Linked DNA regions of Homo sapiens. The protein of the gene in region 1 interacts with the protein of each later gene in a pairwise test. Each region holds a gene or a part of one and is shown on either strand. Other genes may lie near its edges. The genes, in order: TMEM222, PRSS23, TMPRSS2 and FAM174A.

The links.
Region 2: the proteins of TMEM222 (region 1) and PRSS23 interact in a two-hybrid assay, tested with the Homo sapiens proteins (one large-scale study listed by BioGRID and IntAct).
Region 3: the proteins of TMEM222 (region 1) and TMPRSS2 interact in binary tests that used the Homo sapiens proteins (3 or more experiments, as listed by UniProt).
Region 4: the proteins of TMEM222 (region 1) and FAM174A interact in binary tests that used the Homo sapiens proteins (3 or more experiments, as listed by UniProt).

Annotation. Positions count from the first base shown.
Region 1 is NC_000001.11:27,328,634-27,332,298, forward strand, and holds part of TMEM222 (transmembrane protein 222), read left to right. Parts: intron 1-2,081; exon of another isoform or gene 2,082-2,086; coding exon 2,087-2,171; intron 2,172-2,351; exon of another isoform or gene 2,352-2,504; intron 2,505-2,607; exon of another isoform or gene 2,608-3,436; coding exon 3,437-3,468; intron 3,469-3,665.
Region 2 is NC_000011.10:86,806,916-86,810,580, forward strand, and holds part of PRSS23 (serine protease 23 precursor), read left to right. Parts: intron 1-715; 5' UTR 716-728; coding exon 729-1,880; 3' UTR 1,881-3,665.
Region 3 is NC_000021.9:41,498,094-41,501,758, reverse strand, and holds part of TMPRSS2 (transmembrane protease serine 2), read left to right. Parts: intron 1-3,569; coding exon of another isoform or gene 3,570-3,625; coding exon 3,626-3,640; intron 3,641-3,665. UniProt on the Homo sapiens protein: Plasma membrane-anchored serine protease that cleaves at arginine residues. Participates in proteolytic cascades of relevance for the normal physiologic function of the prostate.
Region 4 is NC_000005.10:100,559,234-100,562,898, forward strand, and holds part of FAM174A (membrane protein FAM174A precursor), read left to right. Parts: intron 1-2,820; coding exon 2,821-2,955; intron 2,956-3,665.

The DNA.
Region 1 (3,665 bases):
GTGGTACAGCAGTAGCCCCTGAGCTGGCCTCTCCCCCTTTCGTTCTTCCAGGCACATGTACCACTTTCTTGCTCTGCAGTGTTGTTTTCTGCCTGTTGATGTTGTGTCCTTTCACAGGTCAAGGTTAAAAGTCACCTCCTCTGTGAAGTCTTTACTGGCTCCACCCCAGCCCCCTGTAACTGCTTTTTTAAACTGCGTCTCTGGAGGCTTGGCCTGCACCCCTAGCCAGGTGCTTTATGCTCGTGCCCAGGCAGCATTGAGGCCAGGACTCGGCCACTGGCCCTGTGAGTTCTCCTTAAACTGGATCAGTCTCTCCAGCACCCAGGTCCTGTAGGGCCATGGTTCTCAGAACACAGACAGGTCTGGGGTTCCTATGTGTGACATATTGGGGTGCATCTGAGATTTATTGTTGTTTTTTAATGCCCATGGTTTATAAAAAAGGAACTTTTATTTCCTGGCATACACCATGCTTCTGTTCCAATTTCTACCCTTGCACATTCTGTTTCTTTGTTATTTCCTCAGGGAAGCCTTTCCTGAACTCCCCCACCCATACTGGTGTCATGACCGCCCACCTTTTTTTTTTTTTTTAACTTTCTTATTGAGGTATAACTTATGTACCAAACGGTGTGCGAATCTCAAGTATACAGCAGGAAGAATTTTTGCATATCACACACTCATGTAACCGCCACCCAGACGGGGGCTAGAAAGCAATGCTAAGACCCAGAGGACCCCCTTGTGCCCTCCCAGTCAGTTCTACCACAGATTCCACCCCGCTGTGGACCTCTAGCCATAGATCAGTCTTGCCTTTTCTTGGACTTCACGTAAACAGAGTGCTATGTTACGTACTCTGTGTAAGATTTCCTTCATTCACCCTTATGTCTGTGAAAGCCTGTGTTGTGTGTAGCAGAAGTGACACTGTTTTTCATTGTTATGGACTATTTCAATGTATAACTATACCACACTTATTCATCGTACTGTTGTTGAACATTTGGATTCTTTCTAGTTGTTTTTATCAATTTTATTGAATTATAGTTTACATATAATAAAATGTACACATTTTAAGAGTACAGTTCAATGAGTTTTGGCAAATGTTATTTCCCAGGGGTGAGGGCAAAGAAGGTTCCAAAAGTGAAACTGCTGAGGCATTTAGTATAGTGCCAAACTGTTTTCCAGAATGGTAGAAACAGGCCGGGTACGGTGGCTCACGCCTGTAATTCCAGCACTTTGGGAGGCCGAGGCAGGCAGATGACTTGAGGTCAGGAGTTCGAGACCAGCCTGGCCAACGTGATGAAACCTCATGTCTACTAAAAATACAAAAATTAGCCAGGCATGGTGGTGCACTCCTGTAGTCCCAGCTACTCGGGAGGCTGAGGCAGGAGAATTGCTTAAACCCAGGAGGCGGAGGTTGCAGTGAGCTGAGATTGTGCCACCGCACTTCAGCCAGGGCAAGAGAGCGAGACTCCATCTCAAAAACAAAATGGTAGGCCGGGTGCAGTGGCTTATGCCTGTAATCCCAGCACTTTGGGAGGCCAAGGCACGTGGATCACGAGGTCAAGAGATCGAGACCATCCTGGCCAACATGGTGAAACCCCATCTCTACTAAAAATACAAAAATTACCCAGGCGTGGTGGTGCACACCTGTAGTCCCAGCTACTCAGGAGGCTGAGGCAGGAGAATTGCTTGAACTCGGGAGGCGGAGGTTGCAGTGAGCCAATATTGTGCCACTGCACTCCAGCCTGGGCGACAGAGCGAGACTCCATTTGAAAAAAAAAAAAAGGTAGAAACAGTTTATCCCTCCCACCAGCAGTGAATGAGAGCTCTGGTTGTCCCTTGCCCTCACCTGCATTGGTGTTGCTGTCGTTTGAGTTACAGCCATCCTGGCGGGATGCTGAGGTATCCCATTGTGCTGTCGGTTTGCAGTTACCCTTGTCTGTGCTTCCCCAGCCTTCTGGACCACCCTAATGGCCACCTGTCAATGAAACGTAATATTCACATGCTTCTGTACTGTATGAAGGGTCCCCAGCGTCCGTCTAACTGGCTGAAAGATCCCCTAAGCTCTGTCCCTTCCCCGTCCTTTTCCTCACAGGTGGTTTTTCCCCATCATCGGCCACATGGGCATCTGCACATCCACAGGAGTCATTCGGGACTTCGCGGGCCCCTACTTTGTCTCAGTGAGTCCCCATTCTGCCCACCCGGGGGGTTCCAAGGTTTAAGTGGAAGGCTGTCCTGTCTTGCCTGCAGGCAGGCTTCGTCTCCCCAGACCCAGGAGAACGTAGATAACCCGCAGTCCTGGCCCTGGCCCTCTGCCCCTCACCAGTGTTTGACCCCTTTCCCCCTTCTCTTGCCTCCAGGACAGGCCGGGAGGGCAGTGTGGCCAGAAGGATTCTTAAGTAACTGACCCAGCCCTTTGCCCCCACCCCTGGGGTACCGAGACATGGGTAGGGATTAGAGGCAAGAGTGGAGAGTCAGACCATCCAGGAACCACATCTCTGGACCTTCAGAAGGTGGGAGTCAAGGTGGGGGGACACGGGAGGCTGATTCGGTTCCCTGGGTGTGGCCATGGAGAAGAGGGGGTGGGGCTTTAGAATGAAGCAGCTGTGTTCTCAGGTCTGTTCCCTGGGGCTGTGACCAAGACTGGTCCAGTGGGCTAGCAGCAGAGGAGCATGCATCATCCTGTCTCCAGGTGTCAGAGGCTGGACTGAAGGGGTGTGGTGGCACCAACCTGTTTATATTAATAGTTGTCATGATCATCTTAACACGACAAAGGTCTGTCACTTTGTACTTAAAAATACTTTCACATCCATTACTTTATCATATATTTTTATGGTGATTAATCATTGACCAGGTCTGTCAGCAGGGTCTCCCTGATCTGAACCCAGAGTCTGTCTCTGTGTAAGTCCTGTACCCCAGGAATAATGTGATGAGTCTAGGACTTCACTGCAGTGTCTCCCTCACAGGAAGTCCCTCTGGGCCCAGCGCCCCCGCCCTGCTATGAATGCAGTCAGACTGCTGGGCGAGGAGATGGTCTCCATGTGGGCCACCACTGTTGAGTCAGGAGGCCAGACCATGATGGAAACCTCCTGCTGGTCCTCAGAGATCAGAGAAGACTGACCAGAGAACTTGGAGAAAATGAGGCCCAGAGAGGGCAAGAGAATTCCTGGGTGCCACACCAAGGGACAGTGGCAGCTGGAGCCCCAGATCTTTGGTCTCTGATGCAGTGCTCTGTGCACTTGTGCCACACTGCCTTCTTCCTGCAGAACAGCTGCTAGCTCTTTAGATGCCATGCCAGCCCCAGGGCAGGGCCCAGGCCCCACTTCTGGCCCCCCCACCCCTGACATACCCTCTTCTAAGTCACTGCACTTCTGCCACCTACCCAGGTTTGTCATCTGGCCCAAATGTAAGTTCCTCACTGACCTCTGCTTTTGTCCCTCAACAGGAGGACAACATGGCCTTTGGAAAGCCTGCCAAGTAAGTGATGAACACCCATGTGACTGGCTCTAGAGGCAGGTCGCTCCTGCCGGGGCGGGCCAGGCCTTCTGGGGCACAGGAGGGGCCAGCACCCTGAGAATAGAGTATTTGGGGTCGGGGGAGAGGTCAGCCAGGGTCCACCAGAGCATGGCAACCCCATACAGAGTGTGTACCGCACCAGCCCCTGGCTAGGGCCT
Region 2 (3,665 bases), on another chromosome or scaffold:
AACATAATCCAAAGGAAGAAGGAATATTTTATTAGAAGCCTAGCCACTCTGGAACTCAATATATATAATAGTAAAGGTTGTTGTAAATTCAAAGCAAAAAACAAAACAAAACAAAAAATCTCATACCCTTTCTCGAGTGCACCATCATTTAAAAACCACAGGAGTGGTGGTAATTGTGACACTGTGGAGCTGTCCTTCTTTGATGTCTCAGTCACTCAGTAAGCCATGTAATTTAAATTGACCCTCTGAGTGACCAAGTTGCTCTGAAAATTTTCCAAGTACATGTTACAATGAGAATGAGAGAAGGAGGAGGGAAAGGCGGGGACATCATGAAGGTAGAAGAGGAGGAGGTTTAGAATCAAGCACAAAGAGGGCTCAAAATTACGTGGAAATTGGGGCTGGTCAGTCAGTTAGCCAGGGGACTAATGACTTTATGCCTGCTACTCTGCAGTCTACCATCATTAGGGACATCTTAAACATAGAAAGGAAGGAACACCCAATTTCACTTCAGGCACCCAGCCACAGGAACTTTCCTAAGGTTGAGCCTTTGCGTTGAAAGTGAGACCGTTATCTAAGGATTCCTCTCCACACCCTGATTCCTGAGGAGTGTTCAAAGACTCAGAAACAATGACAGGCCTGCTGCTGAGCTTTGCTGTCTGCAGTAAATGAACGTTCAGCCCTTGCCCTCCTGACCTGCTTGTCTTTGTTTCTACAGAACAGTGCTCGGCATGGCAGGGATTCCAGGGCTCCTCTTCCTTCTCTTCTTTCTGCTCTGTGCTGTTGGGCAAGTGAGCCCTTACAGTGCCCCCTGGAAACCCACTTGGCCTGCATACCGCCTCCCTGTCGTCTTGCCCCAGTCTACCCTCAATTTAGCCAAGCCAGACTTTGGAGCCGAAGCCAAATTAGAAGTATCTTCTTCATGTGGACCCCAGTGTCATAAGGGAACTCCACTGCCCACTTACGAAGAGGCCAAGCAATATCTGTCTTATGAAACGCTCTATGCCAATGGCAGCCGCACAGAGACGCAGGTGGGCATCTACATCCTCAGCAGTAGTGGAGATGGGGCCCAACACCGAGACTCAGGGTCTTCAGGAAAGTCTCGAAGGAAGCGGCAGATTTATGGCTATGACAGCAGGTTCAGCATTTTTGGGAAGGACTTCCTGCTCAACTACCCTTTCTCAACATCAGTGAAGTTATCCACGGGCTGCACCGGCACCCTGGTGGCAGAGAAGCATGTCCTCACAGCTGCCCACTGCATACACGATGGAAAAACCTATGTGAAAGGAACCCAGAAGCTTCGAGTGGGCTTCCTAAAGCCCAAGTTTAAAGATGGTGGTCGAGGGGCCAACGACTCCACTTCAGCCATGCCCGAGCAGATGAAATTTCAGTGGATCCGGGTGAAACGCACCCATGTGCCCAAGGGTTGGATCAAGGGCAATGCCAATGACATCGGCATGGATTATGATTATGCCCTCCTGGAACTCAAAAAGCCCCACAAGAGAAAATTTATGAAGATTGGGGTGAGCCCTCCTGCTAAGCAGCTGCCAGGGGGCAGAATTCACTTCTCTGGTTATGACAATGACCGACCAGGCAATTTGGTGTATCGCTTCTGTGACGTCAAAGACGAGACCTATGACTTGCTCTACCAGCAATGCGATGCCCAGCCAGGGGCCAGCGGGTCTGGGGTCTATGTGAGGATGTGGAAGAGACAGCAGCAGAAGTGGGAGCGAAAAATTATTGGCATTTTTTCAGGGCACCAGTGGGTGGACATGAATGGTTCCCCACAGGATTTCAACGTGGCTGTCAGAATCACTCCTCTCAAATATGCCCAGATTTGCTATTGGATTAAAGGAAACTACCTGGATTGTAGGGAGGGGTGACACAGTGTTCCCTCCTGGCAGCAATTAAGGGTCTTCATGTTCTTATTTTAGGAGAGGCCAAATTGTTTTTTGTCATTGGCGTGCACACGTGTGTGTGTGTGTGTGTGTGTGTGTAAGGTGTCTTATAATCTTTTACCTATTTCTTACAATTGCAAGATGACTGGCTTTACTATTTGAAAACTGGTTTGTGTATCATATCATATATCATTTAAGCAGTTTGAAGGCATACTTTTGCATAGAAATAAAAAAAATACTGATTTGGGGCAATGAGGAATATTTGACAATTAAGTTAATCTTCACGTTTTTGCAAACTTTGATTTTTATTTCATCTGAACTTGTTTCAAAGATTTATATTAAATATTTGGCATACAAGAGATATGAATTCTTATATGTGTGCATGTGTGTTTTCTTCTGAGATTCATCTTGGTGGTGGGTTTTTTTGTTTTTTTAATTCAGTGCCTGATCTTTAATGCTTCCATAAGGCAGTGTTCCCATTTAGGAACTTTGACAGCATTTGTTAGGCAGAATATTTTGGATTTGGAGGCATTTGCATGGTAGTCTTTGAACAGTAAAATGATGTGTTGACTATACTGATACACATATTAAACTATACCTTATAGTAAACCAGTATCCCAAGCTGCTTTTAGTTCCAAAAATAGTTTCTTTTCCAAAGGTTGTTGCTCTACTTTGTAGGAAGTCTTTGCATATGGCCCTCCCAACTTTAAAGTCATACCAGAGTGGCCAAGAGTGTTTATCCCAACCCTTCCATTTAACAGGATTTCACTCACATTTCTGGAACTAGCTATTTTTCAGAAGACAATAATCAGGGCTTAATTAGAACAGGCTGTATTTCCTCCCAGCAAACAGTTGTGGCCACACTAAAAACAATCATAGCATTTTACCCCTGGATTATAGCACATCTCATGTTTTATCATTTGGATGGAGTAATTTAAAATGAATTAAATTCCAGAGAACAATGGAAGCATTGCCTGGCAGATGTCACAACAGAATAACCACTTGTTTGGAGCCTGGCACAGTCCTCCAGCCTGATCAAAAATTATTCTGCATAGTTTTCAGTGTGCTTTCTGGGAGCTATGTACTTCTTCAATTTGGAAACTTTTCTCTCTCATTTATAGTGAAAATACTTGGAAGTTACTTTAAGAAAACCAGTGTGGCCTTTTTCCCTCTAGCTTTAAAAGGGCCGCTTTTGCTGGAATGCTCTAGGTTATAGATAAACAATTAGGTATAATAGCAAAAATGAAAATTGGAAGAATGCAAAATGGATCAGAATCATGCCTTCCAATAAAGGCCTTTACACATGTTTTATCAATATGATTATCAAATCACAGCATATACAGAAAAGACTTGGACTTATTGTATGTTTTTATTTTATGGCTCTCGGCCTAAGCACTTCTTTCTAAATGTATCGGAGAAAAAATCAAATGGACTACAAGCACGTGTTTGCTGTGCTTGCACCCCAGGTAAACCTGCATTGTAGCAATTTGTAAGGATATTCAGATGGAGCACTGTCACTTAGACATTCTCTGGGGGATTTTCTGCTTGTCTTTCTTGAGCTTTTTGGAAGGATAATTCTGATAAGGCACTCAAGAAACGTACAACCACAGTGCTTTCTTCAAATCATATGAGAAATACTATGCATAGCAAGGAGATGCAGAGCCGCCAGGAAAATTCTGAGTTCCAGCACAATTTTCTTTGGAATCTAACAGGAATCTAGCCTGAGGAAGAAGGGAGGTCTCCATTTCTATGTCTGGTATTTGGGGGTTT
Region 3 (3,665 bases), on another chromosome or scaffold:
AGGACTGAATGTGATTTCCTGGTCTTTTCGGGACAGCAGTGCTTCCCCTTGCAGATCTAATGTCAGAGCGGGACATTCCCCCCCTTGTTTTATTTTCAATTGGAGAATGTTGTTGTTGTTTCTTTTTTTTTTTTTTTTTTTTTTTTTTTTGAGACAGAGTCTCTCTCTGTCACCCAGGCTGGAGTGCAGTGGCCTAATCTTGGCTGACTGCAACCTCTGCCTCCCAGGTTCAAGTGATTCTCCTGCCTCAGCCTCCCAAGTAGCTGGGATTACAGGCACCCACCATCATACCCAGCTAATTTTTGTATTTTTAGTAGAGATGGGGTTTCACTATGTTGGCCAGGCTGGTCTTGAACTCCTGACCTCAGGTGATCTGCCCGCCTTGGCCTCCCAAAGTGCTGGAATTATAGGCAGGAGCCGCCGTGCCCGGCCCAGCTGGAGAATGTTACTGGCAGCATCACTCTGGTCTTCCATTCCAAAGTCCATGGTAACTGACTTGGGCACACGGAATATTTTTGTTTATCATGTTCTGATTGCTGGAAGAGATAGGATTATCCTGTGACTGCCTCTGGGTCCCATGGCTTTTATTTGACAATTAATGGTGGTGGCTCCCGGTGTTCCTTCCTTCCCTGGCTTCCTTGTTAGGGATCGTGAATGAATAGCAAGTGTGGGTTTTGAGTATTGATTCTTCACTCCTTTCAGAGGGCTTCTGAGCTGGGAGAGCTGCCAATGGGATCGAATTTTCACTTCCTGAAACTTCAACCAAACCTGTAACTGGGGAGATAGGACAGCCGAGAAACCAGAGGCATGAGGATGTGTTTGGTTAGGCAGGACTCTTTGAAAGCAATCTTAGGATGGTACTGAGTTCTGTCCTGCTTATGAGACAAGAATGCGGGATTTATTGTGTTGTCAAGCCTGAGGATCCTCTCTCTTCACAAAGCAGACATAGGCAAGGTCTGTTAAGATGTGGCTAAAAGGCTTAAACGTTTTTGATACATTTTAAATGGTGATCCTTCCCACCTGTACATTAGTCACTTTCCTTTCCTTATACCCAGGAAGGTGTGAACTTTAGTTTTAATCCTAGAAAAAGTCCCAAAGCTACAACATGACCTGGTTCTTGTATTTTTATCTGTAATTGAAGAGTAAATAAATGATTGGTGCATGTTTGTTGTAACCTGTTGGGTGAGGTTTCTCGAGACTAAAAAGCCATATACTCATTTTCATTCATGGCAGGCTGTTGGGGTTTTATAGTTTAATGATTCAGCAACCAGTTCTGCTTAGGACACAGGAAAGCGATGGTGTACTGAAGCCGGCCCCACTCTACTTGGCTCCGTGGTGGGCTTCATGTTGGTAGCCTGGGAATACTTACCGAAGGCAAACCTGCGAATCAAGACAGCCCTCTTTTCCTTCAGCAGGTTGTTAAATGTTTATCAGCTTTATAATTCCTCTTATTTAATGGAAAGTTATATAGCACTCATTTTATGCTAAGCATGAAGCACTTCATTAGTATTAACTCATGGAATGCCCTGGAGGTAGGTGTTACTATTATCTGCATTTGCAGATGGGGAAACTGAGGCACAGAACCTTCAATAGCTTCCTCCAGGTCATGGAGAGTGAGTGGCTGAGCCTGAGTTTGGATCTAGAGTCTAGTCTCAGAGGTCAGGGGCTGAACCGCTGCCCAGTGCTGCCTGCTGCTGTTTGAGCACCTGCTTTGTGCCAGCAACTGGGAAATATTCTTCTGTGGCCATGTCACAGACAGTGGACACTGGTCTGGCCAGGTCCGAAGCCCAGAGCCTCCTCCAGGTTCTTGTTCCCTCATTGGGAACATGGTCTTGTGGACGGATAATCTTGAACCCCGTTTCTTAAAATATTCTTTGGTCATTTAAAGCCAAGCGGGAAGGGGTGGAAAAAAGCCCTTTATTTGCTCAGGAAGGTGCATGTTAAAGAAAAAAAAATCGTCCAATGAGACTTGTTAAAATGGTGAAGCGAACTTTATTCAGGACCACGGAGGCAGGTACAGGGACCACAGCCAGCAGATTTTGCAGTGGGAAGAAGAGACTGGGATCCGCTTGAGTACAGTATGGGCAAGTGGGAGTTAATTTATAACCAAGGATCAGGGTGGGGTTGGTGGGTGGAAAAATCACAAAGAGAAAACATCAAGGGTAAGGGGGATTCTGGCTAAACCAACCAAACAGGATTCTTGCTGAAGACAGGCTGGGTGATCAGACATCACCTGTGGCACGGTGGAGGCTGAGGAACCCGATCAGATATCCAGAGTGATCAGATACCGAGGGTGGGAGGTTCTGGCTAAACTGACTGAGCAAGGTTTTTTGCTAAAACTGGATTTTACAAGGAAATGCACAGATGGCCTAGAAGGTTCAGGAGCTTGATATAAGTTTGATCAAGCGAAGAATCTTTGTCCATGGAGAGTGATGTCAGAATGCGGCTTTACTATACAGCATTTCGTGTTGACGGCATCTCTAGCTATTATTGTTAACTGTTCACAAAGGACAACAAGCAAAATGGCCCACAGCTTTCTTTTCATTACTGCTAATCTTAGCAGTGGTCAAAATGGTTGGCTCTGAATTTCTTTCTTTTTTGGGTTTGGGGTAGTAAATGGAGTGACTGTGGACATGTTTTATGGATTATTTTAAGCGTATGTATCTATTAAAAATTGAGAGGGCCCACATGGCCTGCTTTAAAAAGTCAACTGTGAGCTGTATTTGGTGCTGAGCCCTGAACCACCCGCTGGGCAGTGGGTGGCTACTGGCAGTGCCTGTGGACGTTCTCGGGGAAAGACGGTCTGATTGCACCTGCTCTTCCTCAGTTCCTAGTACTGTGAGGCACTCTTTCCCCACTCTCCCACAACCCTCAGCTTAACACAACTGTGGTGATTGCTTTGTCCGTTTTCCCATGAGGACCCTGAGATTTCAACAAGGTTCAGTAACTCACACATCGACACTTCCAGGGAGCTGTGTTGCCAGGAACTGGCCCAGGTCTTTCCCTCCTGGGCCCATCTTGTCCTTAATCTCTGCTGACATTGATGGGTTTAGTTACCTTGTCGTGTTTCTTCAGTGTTTTATGCCATACAGTCTCCCTTGAGTAGATGTTCTGTATAGGGGATATCACAGCTTCCTGGTGAGAACTGGGTTAAGTCCAGCAGGATGCCTGGGCTTAGTGGCACTGGAGTTGTGGGTGGCCTTGAGCCCCAGGCAGTCCCCTGAGAGCCCTTCCCGATGGATGTTTGAGTCACTGAGTGTGTTCCTTCTTCTTTCTGGTCAGGCTGTCCTGGCCGCTGCACTTACAATTGCACCCCATCCTCCTACCCACTCTGATCCCAGAGGAGAGTGCTTCTGCTGTAACCTCTAAGGCACAAGTGGGTCCCAAAGTCCTTAAATATGGAGGGATGTGGGGAAGCAGTGGTGAAGATGCAGGCCAAAGGTCAGCAGGCAACACTGGTCTTTGTTGTAGGTAACCTTCATCTAGAGATTCTTCTAGTTCTTTCCAGATTTATCTTCTAAAAACTAACTGGTATGGAAATATTACAGTCCTGTAATTCTTTCTTCTAGGTCATATTGAACATTCCAGATACCTATCATTACTCGATGCTGTTGATAACAGCAAGATGGCTTTGAACTCAGTAAGTGGTTAATTATTACCTTCCT
Region 4 (3,665 bases), on another chromosome or scaffold:
ATTCTTTTCTTTAAGAATGTTGAATATTGGCCCCCACTATCTTCTGGCTTGTAGAGTTTCTGCCAAGAGATCAGCTGTTAGTCTGATGGGCTTCCCTTTGTGGGTAACCCGACCGTTTTCTCTGGCTGTGCTTAACATTTTTTCCTTCATTTCAACTTTGGTGAATCTGGCAGTTATGTGTCTTGGAGTTGCTCTTCTCGAGGAGTATCTTTGTGGCGTTCTCTGTATTTCCTGAATTTGAATGTTGGCCTGCCTTGCTAGAACTTCCCTATCCAGGGAAGTTCTCCTGGATAATATCCTGCAGAGTATTTTCCAACTTGGTTCCATCCTCCCCATCACTTTCAGGTACACCAATCAGACGTAGAGTTGGTCTTTTCACATAGTCCCATATTTCTTGGAGGCTTTGTTCGTTTCTTTTTATTCTTTTTTCTCTAAAATTCTCTTGTCACTTCATGTCATTCATTTGATCTTCCATCACTGATACCCTTTCTTCCAGTTGTTCGCATTGGCTACTGAGGCTTGTGCATTCGTCATGTAGTTCTCTTGCCATGGTTTTCAGCTTCATCAGGTCCTTTAAGGACTTCTTTGCATTGGTTATTCTAGTTAGCCATTTGTCTAATTTTTTTTCAAGGTTTTTAACTTCTTTGCCATGGGTTCGAACTTCCTCCTTTAGCTCGGAGTAGTTTGATCGTCTGAAGCCTTCTTCTCTCAACTCGTCAAAGTCATTCTCCTTCCAGCTTTGTTCCGTTGCTGGTGAGGAGCTGCGTTCCTTTGGAGGAGGAGAGGCACTCTGATTTTTAGAGTTTCCAGTTTTTCTGCTCTGTTTTTTCCCCATCTTTGTGGTTTTATCTACCTTTGGTCTTTGATGATGGTGACGTACAGATGGGGTTTTGGTGTGGATGTCCTTTCTGTTTGTTAGCTTTCTTTCTAACAGTCAGGACCCTCAGCTGCAGGTCTATTGGAGTTTGCTGGAGGTCCACTCCAGACCCTGTTTGCCTGGGTTTTTTATAGAGAAAGTTTAGACCTCTGGTCTACATGGTGTGTGTGGGTGTGTTTGCACACATACACACACATATACATGTTAATGTAACAACCTAAACATACTTAATTTCTCACTGTGAAAGAAAGAGTACTTTGTATTTCATACTGCTTCATTTTTGCTAGTACTAATATTTACTGACCCTTTCATTGGTTACATTTGTAACTTTAAATGCTATGCTTAACTCTCTGTTTCCTGTTCCATCACTTTAGACGTGTATATAGATAGCTCTATAGGTAATGACTGGTGGAAATTTTCTTTGTTTGTACTCACACTTAGTAACATTTTGTAAATTTTAACACTGAGACCAGGCACTTTACACCCAGGTGCTAATATCATACCTGATGCTTAATAAGACTCAATTATTTGTTGAAGGTATGTTTGTTTTCCAGGAGCTTCACTGTCATGTTTGAGGAGTCTCATGTTGCTCTTTACAGTTGATGTTATAGCCCAAGTATTTCTTATCCCACATATGTCAAACAGAGTAAATCAGAATTTATGTAAACTGATTTTATTTGTGATAACTTGCTGAAATATTTTCTATTTATTTTCAAACTCCAGTGGACACTCTTGTGAAACACATTTTGCTGTCTGTGGAGTTGAAGTTGTTGCATTGGAGATGACTTAGGCATTCCTTGCAGGGTCACAGTTTTGGTCGCCAAAGTAGAAGTCACTCAGACCCTCAACAATTAATTGAAGAACATCTTAATTGATACATCACTGTGCTAGGAAGTGGTTATGTAGTGGTGAATAAAGCAGTCTTGGTTGCTGCCCTCAGAGAACTTAGTGGGAGAGACAGATGAATAAACCCCACATAAACATATACATCAGCACATAGGAATGCAAATTAAGGTAAATGATTTGAAGGAAAAGAACAAGTTATTTGAGACACAAACTGGAAGTAGGACTCTAAATCTTGAGATTTCATTCATATGGCTAATAATGAATGTTAAGCACCCTTGAATCTTTTGAATTTCTCTAAGCCAGTGGTTCTCAAACTTGAATATGCATCAAAAGCATAAGAAATGTTTGTTAAAAGACAGGTTTCTGGGCCCCATCTTCAAAGTTTGTTATTCACTAGGTCTGGGCTAGCCATGAAGATTTGCATTTCTCGTAACTTCCTAGGTGACTGTGATTCTGCTGATCCAGAGAACCACACTGCAAGAACCACTGATCTCAGATAATGGTTTATATCACATTGGAATCACATTTAGAACCTCAACAAAATATTCATATTTAGTTCTTTTTTGCTGTACATTTTGATTCAGTTATGTCCTAAACATGGGACTTTAAAAAATACTCCCAGGTAATTCTAGTGTGCAGCTAGAGTTGTGGGCTATCAGTTTAGTCTGTGAATATGCATATACATACAGTTTCTTAGAGGGGCATCTAAACAGTGGTAAGAAAGCGGGGAGGACATGGGGAAAAGGCTGGAGCAGGAGGTTTCAGTAAAGAAGTACCTGACCTAAGCCTTTAAAAATTAAGGTTTAAAGTACGGTACCTGAATTTAAGGCTTAAAAGTTATTTGTCAACACCATCAGTTGACACAGAGAGAAGAGAGTATGTCAGACAGAAGAAACAGGCGATGGCACATAAACATGTAGGAGTAGGTTTTGTTTCATGAAGTTTAATCCTAGGTGGTAAATTTGTTGCATATCTGAAATGTAACCATTCTGATATTGTTTGCTATGTCAGAAACAGAATAATAATTTATTTTATAAATAAATATAAACTATGCCATATTAAATAATTTTTATTCATTAATTTGTTCTATTTGATAGGATGAGAAGAAGAAACCGAAAGACTAGGAGATATGGAGTTTTGGACACTAACATAGAAAATATGGAATTGACACCTTTAGAACAGGATGATGAGGATGATGACAACACGTTGTTTGATGCCAATCATCCTCGAAGGTAAGTATTCCAGTAGTTTAATTCCATGAATCAGGAAGCAAGTCCTTGCCAAGTAAACTGAAGAAGTAAAGTAGACTTTCATTTAACAGCTTATATTCCAACACAGTTTCTTCAGTTCTGTTTACTGAAGTTCTTTTTGCTATCTACCCCATAGCTCACATTCACGTTGTTTTGCTCAAATAGATACAAACAATAGAATACCATCTCAAAATATTTTTTTTAATTTATTCTTCTGTTTTTATCTTTTATTTTAAGTTCAGGGGTACAAGTGCAGGGTCGTTACATAGGTAAACTTGTGTCATGTGGTTTTGTCGTACAGATTATTTCATCACCCAGTTATTAAGCCTAGGACCCATTAACTTCTTCATTCTTGCAATATGTATTAACTTGGGTGTGTGTGTGCATGTGTGTTTGTGTGCGTGTGTGTTTGTGTGTGTGTGTGTGAGAGAGAAATACTTATTAAATTTAATTTCCTTTTTGTATTCTGAAGATATTTTCTTTTTAGTTTGGGTTCTAGTGTTTGTAAATAGTGCTGCCTTGCAGAATTGGGGGACTAATTGTTTATGGTCTGATCATGTAGCTGTAATATATATACTGAGATCTATTCTCAGTAAGTGTTAAGACCTTTCCTAAGAGGTTTAGATAAATAAAATGACATGAGTATAGAATAAATGCCAATGTAAATAGAATGGGGAAAAAAGCCAACAAAG